Linked DNA regions of Homo sapiens. The protein of the gene in region 1 purifies or fractionates together with the protein of each later gene. This does not show direct contact. Each region holds a gene or a part of one and is shown on either strand. Other genes may lie near its edges. The genes, in order: WIPF1 and HCLS1.

Region 1 (3,826 bases):
TTGAGTAGCCTGAGTGACACTCGGGCTATATAGAAAGTCCAGGCTTCTTGCCTGGAGTGGGGTAGAGAACCCTTTGGAGCCATCTACATTCTAGTAAATTCCCCTTCCACAGGCAGTGAGGAAATTGCAGATGCCCAGAATGCATATGAGAAACAGTTATTTTAATGTGTCATTACAAGCTCAAAATACCGTGGTTTGCTAGTATTAAATTTTATTATTTTACTTCTTTGGACGTCTTCCTCTGTTTTCATCTTCCTGAGACAGCACAAGTAGAGCCATCTTCTATTCCTTCTAGTTTTGAAATTGGCATAATGTCTGATTAATTATAACAAAAACTCCCTTTAACTGCCTTGATCTTTTAAACGTATTGTAATCATAGCTTTACAGAGCATTACATGAAAATGTAAATATATCCATAATCTCTCCACATAATAGATATTTTCATTTTACCAGATTCTCATCCAATTTTTTATCCATATAATTCTGTTTTTTTATGTAGTTATAATGACGATGTACAGTTTTTTGGCGGGGTTTACATAACATTGCTTAGTAAATAGTGCCCATGTTATCACATGGTTTTTATTTCAGCATATAGTAATTTACCATTACCATGGACATTTAAATTATTTCTGTTGTTCTGCTAATGTAGGTAATGCTACCATAAAGAACTAAATTGCTTTTCCTCCATTGAAGAAGAATGTCAACAAGAAAGGAAAAATAGACAAACTGGAATTTTATAACAGTAAATGTATAGGAAGTGTTACAGCTCTTTGAGAATTTGTCTAGCAGGCTTTCCAGGGTTTTGCTGGAAAGCCTCTGAAATTTACTTTTAAAAAAACACAATAGCTGGGCATGGTGGCTCACGCCTGTAATCCCAGCACTTTGGGAGGCTGAGGTGGGCGGATCACGAGGTCAGGAGTTCGAGACCAGCCTGACCAACATGGTGAAACCCCATCTCTACTAAAAATATAAAAATACAAAAATTAGCTGGGCATGGTGGTGTGTGCCTGTAATCCCAGCTACTCAGGAGGCTGAGGCAGGAGAATCACTAGAACCCGGGATGCAGAGGTTGCACTGAGCTGAGATTGCGCCATTGCACTCCAGCCTGGGCGACAGAGCGAGACTTCATCTCAAAAAAAATAAAAATAAAAAAAAATGTATACAACGAAGAAAGAATTAGCATGAAATATGCATATGTCATCCATGAGGCTGAGGTTCGTGGCAGCCTTAGCCTCAGAGCCAAATTCCCAAACCAGAAATAGAGAAAACTTAAGCAAACAAGTCAAATATGTCACAACACCCCTAGCGATGGCCCCACTCCCTAACAGAGCACCTTACATGTACTCAAAGCCTACTGATTCTTTCCTAACACAGTTTAAAGTAATTTTTGGTTGGTTGGTTCCAAACCTTATAGGAGATTAATAACAGCTAAAGTTAAGACTGGTGAGAAGCAAAATCACTGACATGGGAGAGAAGTGACAGATGGCAGTCCCAGGTCAGAGGAGGAGACAGGAACATGGCTGTGCTGTGTGTCACAGCGCAGGACAACACCAGATGTTTCTGTTGGGTTGAATTTCTATTGGGTTAAATGGAATTAAATTAATTGAGTCAAACTGTGCTTTGTGCCTCTGTAGAAAAATTTAAAGAGTTAGAAAATATAGGAAAATTTCCATGGACAAATGCTAGAAGAAAACAGAATACTACTGCTTAAAAGGAAAACTTTAATTCCTGAAAAGATTTGTTTCTGTGGAAGACTGCATTCATAGACAATACCTAATGAAGAAGTATAGCTATAATAAAATTATTATACAAGAGTTGATGATTGAAATTTTTAGTGAAGGCCAGGCACGGTGGCTCACGCCTGTAATCCCAGCACTTTGGGAGGCTGAGGTGGGCAGATCACCTGAGGTCAGGAGTTCGAGACTAGCCTGACCAACATGGAGAAAACCTGTCTCTACTAAAAATACAAAATTAGCCGGGCATAGGGGCGCATGCGTGTAATCCCAGCTACTCAGGAGGCTGAGGCAGGAGAATTGCTTGAACTCAGGAGGTGGAGGTTGCGGTGAGCAGAAGTCGCCATTGCACTTGAGCCTGGGCAACGAGAGCGAAACTCCATCTCAAAAAAAAAAAAAAAGTGTTAGTGAAAAGTAAGTTTTCACATGGGACAGATATCTTTGAATGGTGTGTGTGTGTGTGTGTGTGTGTGTGTGTGTGTGTGCACCAGAAGAAGGGCTTCTGTTTGATAAGAGTACAGCCCTTCTTCCTTCTTGGGCACCAATAAATGAATTGACTTTAAGGAGTTGTTCATATAGACTCCAAATATTTTTCCTAACTTATTATTTGCTTCTTATTCTAAATATTATTTCTATTTTTAAATTGGTAATAGACCATCTTCCCTGTACCCTCTAGATCTTTAATGGAATAGCTAAGCATATATCTTCTCCCATCCTCCTTTAAGACTTGAGTAGGCAATGTAAGGACTAGAACTGTGTCCTGCTCACTATTGCACCTTCCTTGAGGGGCACAGAGCCTGAAACATAAAGGGCATTTTCAAGTATTTCTTTTTAAAAATTTTCTTATAGAGACAGGATATCTCTATGTCACCCAGGCTGGTCTTGAGCTTCTGGCCTCAAGTAGTCCCCTGCCTTAACCTCCCAAAGCACTGGATTATAGGCATGAGCTACCATGCCTCGCCTAAAAGTAGTTTTTAAATTGGTGAATTAATTTCCACAGTCTACCAAAATTTTTTTGTAGATTTGCCTTAAATATTTCCAGCATTAGGCATGTTTAATATTTTATAATGATAATGGATCATCTAACAAAAATAAATAAGGCACCGTCGAGTACCAAGTTTTCCTCTGCTCTGCAGCAGCCTCAGCCTCCAAGCCCACAGCCTGAGAGCGCACCCAGACAGCCCTGAGCAGTACCGAATGCACTTGGAGTGCCCTCTAATTACAGCTTTGGACAAGGCCAGCCCTCATTCTACTAACCACTTGTGGCGGGTCAGTTGATGGTCAAGGCCCCATGATAGGTGTCTGGTTTACATCCAGATGAGTCTTTTCTCAGATGCCTGCCCAAGAAAATATTTGGTTGGGATGGTGAGAGGAAGAGGTGCTTCTTTCAGTGTTTTCTCCTAACTCCCTTCCTTGCTCAGAAATTTGGTTCTTTCTCAGAAATCCCTAAGTGGACCAGTAGGGTCCCTATCAAGATGCCTACTTGAGGAATCTGCCAGTTCCAGCCCACTGAGTCTCAGAGCAGTGGTTAGAGCAGACCTACCTGATTGACACATGCCCCAGTTAGACCTGTTCACAACATCTGAGCACCTGACCTCATGCCAAACACCTGTTAAATCCTCAACAAATGTTTGTGTAGTAAATGAATTTTTTTTATGTGAATGGGTTTTAAGCCTAGTTACAGTGGACTGATAGCCCATGAATAGCTTGGTTTTGGTTTTTATTTTGTTTTTGAGACAGGGTCTCACTCTGTCACCCAGGCTGGAGTGCAGTGGCGCAATCTTGGCTCATTGCAGCCTCGACCTCTCAGGTTCAGGTGATCCTCCCACCACAGCCTCCCAGGTAGCTGGGACTATGGGACAGGCGCACACCAACATGCCCGGCTAATTTTTGTGGAGACAGGGTTTTGCTATGTTGCCCAGACTGGTCTCAAACTCCTGAGCTCAAGCCATCATCCCTCCTCAACCTCTCAAAGTGCTGGGGTTACAGGCGTGAGCCACTGCAACTGGGCCGTGAATAACTTTTAAAAGAACACATCGACAGAGTACTTGAAAAGGTGTTCAACATCACTAACTTTTATGAAACTGCAAATA
Region 2 (3,826 bases), on another chromosome or scaffold:
AACATAACTTGCTTTTTCACTTTATTGATTGATTGATTGATTATTTATTGATTGATTGCTCTGTTGCCCAGGCTGGAGTGCAGTGACATGATCTCAGCTCACTGCAACCTCTGCCTCCTGGGTTCAAGCGATTCTGCTGCTTCAGCCTCCTGAGTAGCTGGGACTCAGGCGCCCACCACCAAGCCCAGCTAATTTTTGTATTTTTGGTAGAGACGGGGTTTCACCATAGTGGCTAGGCTGGTCTTGAGCTCCTGACCTTGTGATCCACCCGCCTTGACCTCCCAAAGTGCTGAGATTACAGGCGTGAGCCACCACACCTGGCCACTTTTTCATTTTATTAATGGCATCTTTTTAAGAGCAAAAGATCTTAATCCTGATGATGTCTAATTTATTGAAAAAAAATTTATGGGGCTAATGCTTTATGTGTCTAAGAAATATTTACCTACCCCAAAGTTGTGAAGACTTTCTTTGATGTTTTGTCCTAAAGGACTGACAGTTTTAGCTTTTACATTTAAGTCTATGACCCATTTCAAGTAGACTTTTCTGTGCAGTGTGAGGTCAAGATTGAGGTTCATTTTTCTCCATGTGATTATTTAGTTGTTCAACAATATTAAAAGAGTATTCTGTTCCCATTGACTTACCTGGCATCTTTGACCACATACATGTGGGTCTATTTCTGGACTCTATTCTGTTCTGTTGATCTATTTTCTACCCTGACAGCATACCATACTGCACTGATTATTGTAGCTTTATAAGTCAAGAAATTATGTAGTCCTCAACTTTGCTCTCCTTAAAAAAAAAAAAAGAAACAAAAGATTTTACTATTCCAGGACTTTACATTTTCACATAAATTTTATAATTCACTAGTCAATTCCTACAAGAATGCCTGTTCAGATTTTGATTGGGATTGCATTGAATCTATAGATCATTTTAGGGAGAACTGACATCTTAATGATATTGAGTTTTCCAATCCATGAACATGGGATATCTCTCCATTTATTTAGATCTTCTTTAATATTTTCAGAAATATTTTTTAGTGTTTAGGTCTTGCACATACTTTGTTAAGTTTATCCTAAAATGTTTCATGTTATTTCATGTATTTATATTTAACTTCCAGTTTCCAAATGTTTATGGCCAGTATGTAAAAATACAATTGATTTTGATATAATGACCTTGTATCCTGTGACCTAGCCAAATGCACAATGCTTTAGTAGCTTTTTTTGTGTGAATTCTTTAGGATTTTCTACATACATGATCAGGTCATCTGTGAATAAAAACCTTATATTCTGAGTCACTCACATTTGTGCTTTTAGTTTTGTAATAAAAAACAAACACAGATTGAGGAATGAGTCATCTTTGAGGTGCTACATTTTGCTTGGTTCACATAAACTGCATTGCTTTATCAATACAAAGTCTTTTAAAACTTAAATTGGATATCTGAGAGTTAATATGTCAAAAGTTTCTTAGGCACAACACAGCATATTGAATTGGAATTTTTTGTTTTCCTCTCTATCTCTTCTAGCTGTCCTCTATCTCCATACATAAAACATTTTTGTGTCCTCAGAGCCTAACAGTACCTCACACTTAAAAGTTGTTTAGTTAATAGTTATAAAATGAAGGAATGATGTGATTAAGACCTGTTTAGGCCAGGCGTGGTGGCTCACGCCTGTAATCCCAGCACTTTGGGAGGCCAAGGCAAGAGGATCACTTGAGGTCAGGAGTTTGAGACCAGCCTGGCCAACATGGTGAAACCCTGTCTCTACTAAAAATACAAAATCTAGCGGGGCATGACATGCATGCCTGTAATCCCAGCTACTCTGGAGGCTGAGGCAAGAGAATCACTTGAACCCGGGAGGCGGAGATTACAGTGAGCTGAGATCATACCACTGCACTCCAGCCTGGGCGACAGAGCAAGATTCTGTCTCAATAATAATAATAATAATAAAGACCTGTTTAGAATGACTTCCACTATAACCTAAAGAAGTCTGTTTTCTTTGGGCCTCAACAATTTCATTCAAATTATATCATTGGTATGATCCCCTGACTAGTTTTTCTGTTATCCTTTAGATGAATATTTCTGAGTATCATTTTCTAATCCCTTTTAAAAACTTGTTTTAACTATAATATAGTTATAACCCATTTAACAATTATTATATTCATTAAAAAATTGCAGATTTTTTCCATTTGAAAGTAAATTTTGGCCCCATTTTCTTGATCTTTCATCTGAATACTTCAGTTGGAAGATATTGGGCAGGCATTTACATGTCCTTGGTACTAGTAGCTTATGACACAGTGTTGGTGTTGAACTGACAACACAAGATCTCTGCTTTCAACGCTGCCAGAGAGTTTAGAGGAGGCATGGGAACAGGGGGTTCTTCCAGCACTTGGCTTAATTTCATCTGGTTCATAGCCAGCTTTCTAAAATTAACTGCGGCTAAAGCTGAGAAGGCTTTTTAAAAAGACCTTTGGTAGAATTATCCACTAAAGGCCACCAGATGGATCTATTCTTCCTTAAAAGAAGACAATTTCTGCTGTGAGACAGCCATTCTACGTATAACCAATGTGTCTGGTTGTCCTGCGCTGGTAAAGTCCCAGCTCACCATCTAACATCACTATCTTAATACCCTAAACCCTCATTGCTTGCTGCAGAAAGTCAAATTTCTTATTTAGGGTTCTCTTGCCCAAATGTTTCCAAGAATCCCCGGATCCTTATATGTGTCCAAATAACAGATCTGATTGTCACGTGGGGCTGAGCTATCACTTCATATCCTCAAGCCAAAGAGGTTGGCCAAGATGGCTTTCTGCCCTCTTAATTGTTGCAGTCACCTTCATGGTAAAGATGGAAGTGGGTGTGAAGTAAGAAAGATAATGCCTTTTTTGGTGGTACTTTCTCTTAGGGATAGAGGTGTCCCTTCAAATCAAGATAATTTGAGGCTTAAAGTGTTATAGCAATAACTGTGAGTGGATTTTCTTAGTTAGTTTTCATTAGTCCTTAGTTTTCTCAGGTATTATCAGCCTGGGGGGAAGGGGCAGAAGATCTTAATTCATGACCAAAAAGCATAAAAAATACCACTAATGTTTACATAAATTTCCCCAGTTCTGTGTTTTTATAAGCATTATATTTAATGACTTCCTAGTACACTAGTGAAAGGTAGTATTTCAATTTATTTAACTATTATCCAACCATTGGTCATATAGATTGTTTCTTAGTTATTGCTATTATATACGATGCTTCAATGAGTATCATTTAGACATTAAGGACATTAAGCTTTGCCATATTTAAAATCATTTCCCTGGTGTAGACTGCTAAAACTAGAATGTGTAGGTCCAATGGTATGTGAATATTTTTCTGCTTTTTGAGACACATCCTCTAATTGATAGAAAGCAGATCCATTCAGAAAAGAAAATAACTTTCCAGTTATCAGAATATAGGTACCATTGTCCTCTAATATTTAAGAACATGAAAAATGGGACTAAAGATCAGAAGGTTATTTTAGTGAGCAAATAACAGACTAGAGGAAATATTATTGGCCTATGGAGAGTTTAAATCAGGCTATGGTATGCAGGCCAGACTGATCTTTTACTTCCAGACCCATCACTAGTATATTTTGGGGGCCCAGGTTATTACTGAAAGTAAACAGGACAGACTTCAAGGCTTCCATTTTTCTGGGAAGATGGGTTTCTTGATCTCCCTAGGATAGATGAGCCTTGGTCATGTGGTTTCTTCCAGCATCCACCAGCTGAGGAACAAAGTATCAGAGGAGCATGATGTTCTCAGGAAGAAAGAGATGGAGTCAGGGCCCAAAGCATCCCATGGCTATGGAGG

The links.
Region 2: the proteins of WIPF1 (region 1) and HCLS1 purify together in Homo sapiens (pull-down; one study listed by IntAct). This does not show direct contact.

What each region holds. Positions count from the first base shown.
Region 1 is NC_000002.12:174,563,208-174,567,033, reverse strand, and holds part of WIPF1 (WAS/WASL-interacting protein family member 1), read left to right. Parts: intron 1-3,826. UniProt on the Homo sapiens protein: Plays a role in the reorganization of the actin cytoskeleton. Contributes with NCK1 and GRB2 in the recruitment and activation of WASL.
Region 2 is NC_000003.12:121,647,353-121,651,178, reverse strand, and holds part of HCLS1 (hematopoietic lineage cell-specific protein), read left to right. Parts: intron 1-3,730; coding exon 3,731-3,826. UniProt on the Homo sapiens protein: Substrate of the antigen receptor-coupled tyrosine kinase. Plays a role in antigen receptor signaling for both clonal expansion and deletion in lymphoid cells. May also be involved in the regulation of gene expression.